Linked DNA regions of Homo sapiens: regions 2 and 3 are each linked to region 1. The links come from fine-mapping of genetic effects on gene expression. A gene starts in region 1. Each other region holds a variant in brackets. All regions are shown on one strand. Distances are from middle to middle.

The links.
Region 2: its variant is fine-mapped to the expression of LINC02481 in nucleus accumbens (GTEx, PIP 0.99).
Region 3: its variant is fine-mapped to the expression of LINC02481 in putamen (GTEx, PIP 0.95).

The regions. Positions count from the first base shown.
Region 1 is chr4:6,688,315-6,692,544 of GRCh38, reverse strand. It overlaps LINC02481 (long intergenic non-protein coding RNA 2481), which reads left to right and starts at 2,026. Exons shown (of 3, transcript NR_147207.1): 1 at 2,026-2,246; 2 at 3,086-3,236; 3 at 3,649-4,230. RefSeq lists enhancers at 3,008-3,755, 2,757-3,956.
Region 2 is chr4:6,644,759-6,648,988 of GRCh38, reverse strand. No RefSeq gene overlaps it. Among named protein-coding and RNA genes, the nearest start is that of MRFAP1, 6.2 kb to the right of the region's middle. The variant T/G (reference allele first, on the strand shown) is at 1,602.
Region 3 is chr4:6,655,339-6,659,568 of GRCh38, reverse strand. It overlaps the pseudogene LOC124900840. Among named protein-coding and RNA genes, the nearest start is that of LINC02482, 16 kb to the left of the region's middle. RefSeq lists a silencer at 626-785. The variant T/C (reference allele first, on the strand shown) is at 1,750.

The sequences.
Region 1 (4,230 bases):
TCCCAACACAGCCTCCACCAGCACATGGGCCGAGACTCTCCCCACGGGGCTGTGGCTCAACATAGAAAAACCTTGGTGCACGATGGCAGCAGCAGGTCTCACAAGAGCCGGCTTTCTCAGAACACACTGCCTCTGCCCAGGTGTCCTGCAGTGGAGGCTCAGACTGGCCCCACTGGTGACCCCTTGGGGAGCAGGGACAGGTCCATTCTGCTCACTCCTGAGCTGGGCAGTTCCCTCTTGGGATAAGGTCGCACAGCACAGGCCACCATCATACCACCCCAGCCAGAGAAGTGGGAGAGAGAAGGAGGCTCCCTACCCCAGAGGCAGTGCTCCTCAGGAAGGGCATTCACTGCGTTATATAGATATATATATACACACACACACACACACATATATATACACATATATACACATATATGTATACACACATATATACACACACACATATATACACACACACATATGTATATACACACACATATATATATAGATATACACACACATATATTTTTTGTTTGTTTGTTTGTTTGTTTGCGATGGAGTCTCACTCTGTTGCCCAGGCTGGAGTGCAGTGGTGTGATCTCGGCTCACTGCAACTTCCACTTCCCGGTTTCAAGTGATTCTCCAGCCTCAGCCTCCCGAGTAGCTGGGACTACAGGCATGTACCACCACACCAGGCTAATTTTTTGGGGGTTTCACCATGTTGGCCAGTCCGGTCATCACTTTGTTTTAAAATTTTTATTTATTTATTTATTTTTATTTATTTTTTGAGACGGAGTCTCGCTCTATCACCCAGGCTGGAGTGCAGTGGCACGATCTTGGCTCACTGCAACCCCTGCCTCCTGGTTCAAGTGATTCTCCTGCTTCAGCCTCCTGAGTAGCTGGGATTATAGGCATGCACCACCTTGTCTAGCTAATTTTTGTATTTTTAGTAAAGATGGGGTTTTACCATGTTGGCCAGGCTGGTCTTGAACTCCTAACCTCAAGTGATCTGCCCACCTCGGCCTCCCAAAGTGCTGGAATTACAGGCATGAGCCACCGTGCCTGGCCCCATTTATTTACTTTTAGAGACAGTGTCTTGCTTTCTCACCCAGGGTGGAGTGCAGTGGCTCAATCACAGCTCACTATAGCCTCCAACTCCTGGGCTTAAGTGATCCTCTCACCTCAGCCTCTCCAGTAGCTGGGACTACAGGGGCGCTCCACCATGCCCGACTATTCACTTTAATCTTTCACCGCTGTGGGAGGAAGGATCAGGACATCCATCGGGTGGAAACTGCTGCACTCCCCCACCCGTTCAGGCCACTGGAGTGTCACCAAACCACCAGGGCTGCCCCTGCTGGAGTAGCTCACCTGGGTAACTCTGAGGACAAGCCCCCTTGGAGACTCTTCTCAGGAGGGAGGTGGCATTTTCCAAGAAAGGGTTCAACACAGACCTCTGAGTCAGAGGACCAGTTAAAGAGAAAATTATTCTGACTTTATTCAGGAATGTTGCTGTAGGGGTCGTGATTATTGCCATGCGGGGAGTTGCCCTTGAGGCAGCTGGGAGTGGCTCACGCCTGTAATCCCAGCACTTTGGGAGGCCAAGGCAGGTGGATCACTTCAGATCAGGAGTTCGAGACCAGCCTGGCCAACATGCAAAACCCTGTCTCTACTAAAAGTACAAAAATTAGCCAGGCATGGTGGCGCGTGCCTGTAATCCCAGCTACTCGGGAGGCTGAGGCAGGAGAATCGTTTAAGCCTGGGAGGTGGAGGTTGCAGTGAGCTGAGATCGCACCACTGCACTCCATCCTGGGCGACAGCCAGACTCTGTCTCAAAAAAAAAAAAAAAAAAAGAGGCCAGATGAAGAGCTCGAACCACGAGCTTCTACATGTTAACCAGGGTAAAGAGCAACCGCTGACAGGAAGGGGCCCAGCAGTCAACCCCCGGGAAGGCCAGGATGTGGCCTTGTTTCGGCAAGGCCGCCCTATCACCACGGAGATGGGCAGGCAGGAGACATCCCCAGTCAGTCGGGCCCAGGTGGGGATCAGGAGGTTTCAGGAAAACACAAGCTATGCAGTGGGGCAGGTGAGGCTTGGCCTGCCCAGCCTGTCCTGAGTGTCATGGGAACAGCTCTGGAAGTGACTCCTCTGTCCTCTGGAATCTGGATCAGATGGGGCCTTCTCCAGACATCTGTGCTCAGCAGATGCGACAGACGGCCCCTCGAGTGTAGCCCAGGATCCAGCACCGGCCCAAGCAGGTGGGAGCTGTAAGTTGATCCAAGCTCTCCAGTCCCTGTGCTGGGCTGGGGGATGCACGATGAACGAGGCTGGGATCCTGGTGTCAGGGAGTACCAGCCACAGAGGGCGCCATGTGCATGGAGGAGGTGGCAAGGAAGAGGTGACTGGGAAGGGGAGAAGCAGAGAGGCCAGGAGGAGGGCGGGGCCTGTGCTGGGGGGTGGAGGAACTCATGCCCGGGAAGGGCATGGGGAGAGTGAAGTGGGAGTGGAGTGGGAGGCAGGCTTGGAGGAGTCGGTGCCTTGGGATGTGGGACAGTGAGGAACAAGGCACAAACAACCAGTCAGTGCTCTGGGGAATCAAGAAGTTGGGATGGGCAGCGGGGGTCCAGGGTGGAGATGGGCTGGAGGGGGAGGAGGGCACCAACCAGGGAAGGCCCCTCAGGGGCTTGATCCTGTAGTTCTGGGCCTCGCAGAGCCAGCCACACGTCCGAGCTCCTAGGTGATTTTAAGAACTAGCTCTTGCTGGGCCGCACCCAGGCAGAGCTGCCCGTTCAGTGGCTGGGCTGGCCCAGCACCTCCCAGGTGATCCTGTTGTGCCAGGTCAATGGTCTGGAGAGTTATCAGCCACAAGAGGCACCGTCAGGTTTGCCCTTTTGAGGCCCACATGGCCGCTGGTGTGAGACGCGGATGTGCACGGTGAGGCAGTGAGGGGCTGCAGGGTGAGGAGCCCCCAGCCATGTGCGGTTCAGGGTCCCCGCAGCACTCGCCCAAGGACACTGGGAGCTGGCGGAGGCCTGGGCAGGAGCAGGAAACTGAAGGAGGAGGAGGGGCCTCACTCATCACCTGATGAGATCTCCACACTTTGCAGAAGGGGAAACCGAGGCTCACAGCGAGGAACTTGGTCAACAAGCCCAGGCCCCTCCACCCTGCCCGCGTTTCCTGCACTGCACTGGATCAAACCGGTTTGATCCTTGATAATGCCTCCGACAAATATTTGATGAGGGAGGAGGCTGAGAGAGGTGAGGAAATCAGTTTCTCAGGGACAGGCTGGACACAGGGGTCATGCACCGGGTAGCTGTGAGGGCAGGGGTGGCGTCTCACCTCAGGGACACAGCTCCTGGGGAGGGCGGCAGAGACCCTGACAGTCTCGCCTCGCAGGCGTCTTTCTCCAGGCTAGAAACCAATGACTCATCTCTCAGGCTCTCTAGCAAACAGCGGGGCCCACACACCACAGTTGTGGTCGAATGTTTCCCTGAGGGCTACGGAGCCTGGTCTTGCCGAATACAAAGAGGAGGCTCTCAGCCGTCTGCTTTCTTCCTGCAGGAATCCTGGGCGTGATCTCCCTCGGCTACGTGCAGCCACGTGGAGACGCTGTGGGGATTCTTGTTGCTGGTGACTGAGTATTCCCAACCGGTAGTATTTGTTTTTTAGGGGCTGTGGAACAAATCACCACAAACTGGAGGGCCGAAAACACCAGCAATGGGCTCCCTCTTGGTTCTGGAGCCGAGAAGGCAGAAATGAAGGCGTCATCAGGGTTGCTCCTTCTGGGGCCTCAGAGCAGGACTCTGTTCCCTGCCCGTCCCCAGCTCCGGTGGTTGGCGGCCTTCCTCCGCCTGTGGCCCTGCACTCCAATCGCTGCCTCTGTTGTCACTTGGCCCCCCATGTGCCTCTGTGTCTCAGAAGGACACAAGTCATATTGAATTAAGGACCCTCCCTACCCCAGCATGACCCCGTTTTAACTTAGAACTTTCACAATGATCTGATTTGCAAAGAAGGCTGGATTCTGAGGTCCTGGGAAGGACATGAATTTTGGGGGATGCTGTTCACCTCAGTACACCGGTGCAGAGTTCGGTGACACCGCCAAGTTGCTTGACGGTGAGCAGCCTGGCATTGTAGAAAGGCAGAGGTTGACTTTAGTTTGGTCCCTGGCTTTGTCCTTTATTTGTTCTGTGACACCTTGGACAAGTTTTGTGACCCGAGTGTCAGTTTCCTAGGAACCAGTGACAATGATCA
Region 2 (4,230 bases), 44 kb after region 1:
CTTGTATGAAATGTGCCTCAGAGGTTGCCCCCTCCAGGGGCTTTGCAGTTTCTGAAGCCTTCTTCATGCTGGTGCAGGTGCTGGGGCTCAGCACTTCCTTCAGGGGCTGAACAACCCCAAGTTTTAGCAGACTCACCTTGGAATTTCTTTGGCCATATATTTCCTTCAAAACCTTCGGATGACTTTGGGAGACTGAGGCAGGAGGATTGCTTGAGCCCAGGAGTCTGAGACCAGCCTGGGCAACGTAGGGAAACCGTATCTCTCTAAAAAATAAAAATAAAAAAATTAGCCAGGTGAGGTGGTACATGCCTGTGGTCCCAGCTACTGGAGAGGCTGAGGCAGGAGGATCGCTTGAGCCTGGGTGGTTAAGGCTGCAGTGAGCTGTGATCAGACCACTGCACTCCAGCTTGGGCAAAGCAAGACCCCATGTCTCAAAAAAACAAAAGGAAAACAAGAAATAAAAACACAAACAAGGGGGCCGGGCGCGGTGGTTCATGCCTGTAATCCCAGCACTTTGGGAGGCCGAGGCAGGCGGATCACGAGGTCAGGAGATCAAGACCATCTTGGCTAACATGGTGAAACCCCTTCTCTACTAAAATTACAAAAAATTAGCCGGGCGTGGTGGCGGCTGCCTGTAGTCCCAGCTACTCGGGAGGCTGAGGCAGGAGAACGGTGTGAACCCGGGAGGCAGAGCTTGCAGTGAGCCGAGATCATGCCACTGCACTCCAGCCTGGGCGACAATGCGAGACTCCATCTCAAAAAAAAAAAACAAACAAAAAAAACACCACAAACAAGACCCGCTCAGATGCTTCCTGCCTGTTTGCTGTCAGCCAGCCCCAATGTGCAGGCAGCCACAGCCCAAATCTTGTGAAGATGCCGGCATTTTCCTCACTGCGCTCTGTCCTTCCCCTGCTTTCCCAGTGGTGTCCCTGTGGAGCCAGTGTCCTTGACAGGAAGGTGACAGTCATCAGCTGGTGTTTGCCCACGTGACTGGCACTCACTTTCTGAGGAAGGACCTTTACTGAAGATGCTTGAGAAAGGTTTGGGGCCTCAGTCTCATTTCCCTGTAAGATGGCTTCTTTTGGAGCCATCTCCCGTAACTCTTTGGGTTTGGGATGCAGAACCCCTTTCCTGTGAGGCCCCAAATGACCAGCAGTGGTGCCTCTCCAAGCTCATTCATAGAAGCTACTGCAGGAAGCACAGTTGAGTGACAGTCTCCAACTGCCACATCTTTGCCTCCATAGCGATCACACCAAGGCCATGCCTGTCCTCCCTCAAAGAGACTAAATTCAGGACTAAACTTACTAGCCTGTCACTGCTGTTTCTCCCATTGATGAACCAAGGAGAACTCAGCCTAGGACAAGTTTCCAGTGATGTTCTCCACTCCTCTTCACCCCCAAACCTGTTCCTGGGCCTCCAGCATGTGCCTGACTTCTTGGAGGAGCTCTGCCCTCCCCCGACCTTACCCCTGAGAATAGTGCTATTTCATCCTCAGGCCTGTGAGGGAAAAGCCACTCATTTCTATATGTCCCTCGTGTGTCAATCAGAATTTGGGGGCAGTGTTCTCCCAGGCCATGTCCACACTCTACTTCTCCTCCCTC[T/G]TGTCCAAAATGGTGCTCCTTGGGAGCACTCCCTGGTCATCTGACTGTCCTCTCCCTCTTCTCACCTCTGTCATCCTCCAATCTCTTTTCACCCCATTGGAGTCCCGTCATTCACTGCAAACTTGGGCACCTGGCTCCTGGCCTTCCCCTCCACCCCAAGCCCTGCCATCGTCCTGAGCGAATTCCATGCTCACACAGCCACCAGCCCCACACCTGGGCCCTCATATCCAAGGAGCTCCTCCACCCTGCTTGGCCATTCACTCCCAAGAGTGACTTGGGGCTTGTTATTGTCTCAGACCTGGCCTACTTAATATCTCTGTGCCTCATTGATAAGACGAGACTAATTTTAATAATGGCATCTGCCCCACTGAGGGGTCGTGAAAGGCTTTTGAGGAATTGTAGGTAACTGGCACATAGTAAATGCTTCACAGGTGTTAAAACAAGAATTGATCTGAGGCCCCAGAAGCACGTAGCTCGCAGGATGTCATCCACAGATACATTTTATTTGACAATCAGAGTTTTTAATATGATAAATTGCTTTCCAATATCAGCCCTCCTATTTTCTGGCCACATCCCATCCTCCAGGTGACACTTTCACTGTAGTCACTAACATGCTGGGATCTCCATTCACTTTACCAGCTACTTTCGCCTATTGCTCTCCTGCTCTTCACCTCCATACTTCCCCACTCAGAGTACATCATGTATTGTTGCAGTGATGTCCTTGTCAAAACCCTAAGCTCTTTTTTTCTTTTTTCACTCCTCTCTGGCAAAAATGCAGTCCTGATGAACGCAGTATCTGCCCCAGGCAGTGGGCAAGTGCTGTAAGGAACCATCACCAACAAGGCTACAGGGAAGCCCAGGGCTTGGGGAAAATCTAGTTTCAGCTGTTAAGAGTTGGTAAAGAAATGTTCTTTGAAGAGGCAAAGAATAATATGGATTAATTTGGGAATAATGGAATGCAGGATTTTGTGAACCATGGTATAGAGTTTGAAGGAGGAAGCAATGGGGATATAAACCAGTAAATAGGTACCACAGAACATTATGGAAATCAGAGACGGGGAAAAGAGAATTGACTCAGAGAGGGTCTAACATATGCTGGGCTGTGTATTAGTCTGTTCTCATGCTGCTATGAAGAAATACCCGAGACTGATAATTTATAAAGGAAAGAGGTTTAATTGACTCCCAGTTCCACATGGCTGGGGAGGCCTCAGGAAACTTACAATCATGGCAGAAGGGGAAGCAAACCTGTCCTTCTTCGTATGGCGGCAGGAAGGAGAAGTGCAGAGCAAAGGGGAAAAAGCCCCTTGTAAAACCATCAGATCTCGTGGAAACTCACTATCACAAGAACAGTATGGGGGTAACCACCCCATGATTCAGTGACCTCCCACCGGGTCACTCCCAGGACAAGATGAGATTTGGGTGGGGACACAGCCAAACCATATCAGGCAGTGACTGAAGCAGGCACTGGATGGATTTTGTAGATTTACCTGGCCACAGTGTTAACCAGGGTAATAAATCCCCATTTATCTCTGGAAGATGGTAGAAACTCAAGCCACTCCATGTTTACCTGCTGCCTGGAAGGGGGAGAATGGCCAGGAGTAGGAGTTTGAACTAGCGCTTTCTTTCACCTTGAAGTCATTAGAAGGCAGAGGAAAGTCAAGAGCTCCACGTGAAAGCCAGAGACAGAAGATAACCTGTTGGACAATGCCTGGGCTAGTGGGAGGGATGTGATCAACGGGCCTCAGGTAGAAGGGAGAACAACCCTTTCATCAAAACACAAGGAATGGAAGAAATAATGAATATCTGTATCAGTCATCTTAGTCTAAGTTGTTATTGTAACAAACAATCCCCAAATCTCAGTGGCTTAAAACAACTAAGGTTTTTCCTTGTTTGTGGTATATACTCATCATAGATTGGTAGGGAACTGTGGTCATTAAGCTCAGCCACCATCTGGAATGTTGCTGGTTCCTGTGCCAGAGGGAAGAGACAGCTCTGCAGGGTGTTGCTTTGGAGGTTCTGGGTTGGATGCAACAGATGTAAGTTTCCTTTGTAGCTCATCGGCCAGAATTAATCACGTGGGCCCACCCAACCCCAAGGGGGCCAGAAAGTGCCATCTTACTCTGTGCCTAGAAGGCAGAGAATTGGAATTTATTTGGTGAACAGCACTAATGACTTCTACATTTTAACCCAGAAAAGCTTCATTGCTCTCTGAGGTTATTTCCAGCTCTGCCATCCTGTAATACCAGGACTTTGGGAGGCCAAGGCAGGTGGATCACTTGAGGCCAGGAATTCAAGACCAGCCTGGCCAACATAGTGAAACCCTGTCTCTACTAAAAATGCCAAAATTAGCAGGGCATGGTGGCACCCACATGTAACCCCAGCTACGCGGGAGGCTGAGGCAGGAGAATTGCTTGAGCCCTGGGAGGCAGAAGTTGCAGTGAGCCAAGATCATGCCACTACACTCCAGCCTGGGCAACAGAGTTAGACCCTGTCTCAATAAATAAATAAACAAATAAATAAATATGGCAACTCCAGCCAGAAAATTTAATGACTGTACAGCCACGTAAGACTGTCTCTCAGAATGCTTCTTACCACATTCTTTGCTTAGAAAATGCAAGATTGGATTGCT
Region 3 (4,230 bases), 33 kb after region 1:
GGTGACTCAATCTGCCCAGGCTGGAGTGCGGTGACCTGAACACAGCTCACTGAAGCCTTGACTTCCCGGGTTCAAGCAATTCTCCTGCCTCAGCCTCCCAAGGAGCTGGGACCACAGGTGTGTGCCACCACATCTGGCTAATTGTTTTTTATTTTTGGTAGAGAGAGGTCTCACTATGTTGTCAAGGCTGATGTCGAACTCCTGAGCTCAAGTGATCCTCCTGCCTCAGCCTCCCAAAGTGCTGGGATTACAGGCATGAGACACAGCGCCCGACTCACACACTTTTAAATTTTGTTCTCCGCCTGATATTTAGCTTTACGGCATAGAAGAAATGGTTTAACCCCCTTAGCGACATGGCAGCTCTATGCCCTTTATTGTTCTACTGCTAAAGGTCTTTGGGTTTCTGTTTCTCCTTTTTTTTTTCTTTTTAAGAAATGAAATTATTTTCTTTTACCTACGTAAAAAGAGTATACCTTGGCGGAGAGCGTGGCACGGCTCTACGCACCCCTCCCTGCCTGCCCAGCGCCTTCCACGCGGGAAACTCCCCGCCGGTCTCAGCTCCACCCCGCGCTGCCCCGCCGGCTCGGCAGCACTCGCAGCCGGCGATCCGCTGGTGCAGCTCCACGATCCGCCTGCCCATCCGCGCCGCCTCCGCGGCCTTCCTCTCCGCCTCGGCGCACAGCCTGGCCACCAGATCCTCCGCCTCCGCGCGCGGGCTGGGTGCTGGGGCCCGGGCGCCCTGCTCCTCCGCCTCCATCTCGCTCTTGATGGCGTCGAGCAGGCTCTGGATCTCCAGCAGCTCCCTGCGGGCCCGCTAGTGCGCCCGGGCACGCTCGCACTCCAGGGAGGCCAGGTCCTCGCCGCCCACGCGGGGCGCCGGGCCACCTGGGTCTTTGCGGGCTCTCGCCTGGTCCGTGTCCACGTCAGGCAGGAGAACAGGGTCTGGAGGTAGGGAACTTAAGGCAGATTCCTGCTGACTTCCTAAAGCTGAATCAAGGGAAAACACCAAGGTCTGGGGCAGAGAATCTGAGGCTGATTAACTCAAACTTCCCAAACCAAAAGGAAAAGCACCATCTCCCCATTGGGAGTAGTAAAGCATCAAAGGCTACTCTCCCTACAAGCCTCCTCCCAGATGGAAAGGGAGCGTGCCTTGGAGTGGCCAAGAGCCATGCAGGGACCGTCCCTTCATCCGCATAGGGCGCCAGTTCACCCCAGCCTTTAGCCACAAACCAAAACCTTCATCCACATAAGAGGTAGCTGGTAAGAACCTCAAATGAAGTACTTAAAGCCCAGAAAACTTTCTAACTGGCCCTTGAGCTGCTTGCTCGGGCCCGCTCCCACCCTGTGGGTGCTTTCTCGCTTTAAGAAATTGCTGCTTTCCCTGCTTCTGTTCCTGCGTTTCATTCCTTTGTTACTTTGTTTGTGCGTTTTGTTCAATGCTTTGTTCAAAAGGCCAAGGACCAGGACAACCCACTCAAGGCCCTCCTCACGGTAACGCAAGGCCACAGCGCCGCCGCCCCTTCCCGCCCCGGGCCAGCCGGGCACCCACCAGCCGTGCGCGGACACCTCGCTGTCACCCGCGACAAGTTCTTGAAGTTCCTTTTTAGTTTAGATAAAATTTTACTCTAAAACTTTCAGCCCTGAAACAGCGAAGGCCACACCCAAATGGCCTTCCCGCTGCCAGCCGCCGCGGGGCCTCCTCGAAGCTCCTTTCACGGCAGCTCCAGGTTGCCACGCGCCCACGGGGGT[T/C]TCGGGCGGGGTCCCGTATCGTGCAGGCGCCATGGCGCGCTCTCGTCCCCCTTCCCCCACGCGCCCTCGCCTGCGCGGGCTCTGGGGTGGAGTCTGAGAGGGATTCCAGGGTTGGGGTTTTAACACTCAGTTGCGAGTGATTTTTGCACCAGAAACGGAAGGTTGCACCGAATACCGTGACCCAGGGCCACGAAACCCACGGCTGCACCTCAAACCGTCCCCGCCTCGCCAGGGAACCGCTGGCTTGTCTCCGCCGGCCCGACACAGGCCAGGCGAGGTTTTTGGAAACAAAATTGTTACCAAACAGTGGCATTTCCCAGGACAGCTCTTTGAAGGTAGAATCTGTCCGCACGTCTCCGCCAGGGTTGGCTGCCCAGCAGGGGCTCGGTACATTTTGTTTACCCTAAAGAATGCTGTCTGGAGGGGGTAGAAGATATGTTAAGGCCGGGCACGGTGGCTCAGGCCTGTAATCCCAGCACTTTGGGACGCCGAGGTGGGCGGATCACCTGAAGTCCGGAGTTTGAGACTAGCCTGGCCAGCATGGTGAAACCCCGTCTCTACTAAACGTACACAAATTAGCTGGGGGTGGTGGCGCATGCCTGTAGTCCCAGCTACTCGGGAGGCTGAGGCAGGAGAATCGCTTGAACCCGGGAGGCGGAGGTTGCAGTGAGCTGAGATCCAGCCATTGCACTCCAGTCTGGGTGACTAGCCTGAGACTTTGTCTAAAAAAAAAAAAAAAAAGATACGTTTATATTCCTGGTCTGTGGCCCACAAACGGGCTAATGGTAAAGACTGGGGAGACCCTGCTTGCACAAGTGCCCCTGATTGGAAACTCAGTTCTCTAGGGGTGAAATGGAGCTGGTAGGCCCCTGTGACTGTGAGAGAAGTGAGAAAAAAAGGCATGACAGTGCATTGTACAGTTGCCAAAACACCAGGCAGAGGCAGGTGGCATCGCTACTATGACAGTCATTAGACTACACAGTGCATTCAGAGTCGTGTGGGAACTACATCCAATATTCGGACCCTGGCTTCACAACCTGCTGGCTGGGGGACTGAGGGCCAATCAGCCTGAGGGTAGCTCTCTTGGCCTGTGCCACCACCTGAACTTAGTGGAGTTGGGTACCATCACCTCTAGGGAGGTGTGGCAGGCAGAGTGACCCCCATAGAAGTCCACATCCTAATCCCTGGAACCTGTGATTGTGTTATAAATTATATGACATATTTTGTAATTACGAATATATCATATTACATGGCAAAATGGATTTTGCTCATGTAATTAAAGTTAAGGGTCTTAAGGAGAATGAATAGCCTGGATTATCCAGGTAGGCCCAGCCTAATCCTGAGTCCTTAAAGTGAAAAACGCTCCTAGGCTGGAGTCAGAGATAGAAAACGAAGGCAGAAGAGAGATTTGGCAGAAGAAATCCGTGCTATTCCAAGCAGGAGATGACTGGTCCTGCCTGTGCTGACTCTGAGATGTGGGGGGTTTGGACCCTAGCTTCACAGCTTTGTGGCTGGGGCGGGGCGGGGCGGGGGGTTGGACAATGAGGAGGATTTGACAAACCACTGCTGGTTTTGAGACACAGGTGGCCACATGAAAGGACAGGAGGGAGGCCTCCAGGAGCTAAATGTGGCCCCCAGCTGAAGCCCAGCCTGCAACCACAAGGAACTGGATTCTGCCAGCAACCTGAATGCACTTAGAAGCGGTTTCTCTCTGGAGCCTCCTGATAGGAGCCCAGCCAGCCAACACCTTGATTTTGGCCTTGTGAGACCTAGAGCAGAGAAACCTTCTAAGCCATTCGTGACTTCTGACCTTCAGGACTATGATGATAAATGTGTGTTATTTTGAGCTGTTAATTTGTGATAATTTGTTGTAGCAGCAGTTGAAAACTTGAAGCTTAGTCTGCAGAAAGTCTAAGGATGGATAAAAATGAATGAAGACCCTCAAAGCCGTGCCCCCACCTTATTATTCTCCTCTGGGTTCTCCTAACCCTAATTCTAACCCTATCTTCTTTTTTTTTTTTTATACTTTAAGTTCTAGGGTATGTGATCACAACTTGCAGGTTTGTTACATATGTATACACGTGCGATGTTGGTGTGCTGCACCCATTAACTCGTCATTTACATTAGGTATATCACCTAATGCTATCCCTCCCCTCTCCCCACCAACCCCACAATAGGCCCCAGTGTGTGATGTTCCCCTTCCTGTGTCCAAGTGTTCTCATTGTTCAATTCCCACCTATAAGTGAGAACATGCGGTGTTTGGTTTTTTGTCCTTGTGATAGTTTGTTGAGAATGATGGTTTCCAGTTTCATCCATGTCCCTACAAAGGACATGAACTCATCCTTTTTTATGGCTGCATAGTATTCCATGGTGTATATGTGCCACATTTTCTTAATCCAGTCTATCATTGATGGACATTTGGGTTGATTCCAAGTCTTTGCTGTTGTGAATAGTGCTGCAATAAACGTATGTGTGCATATG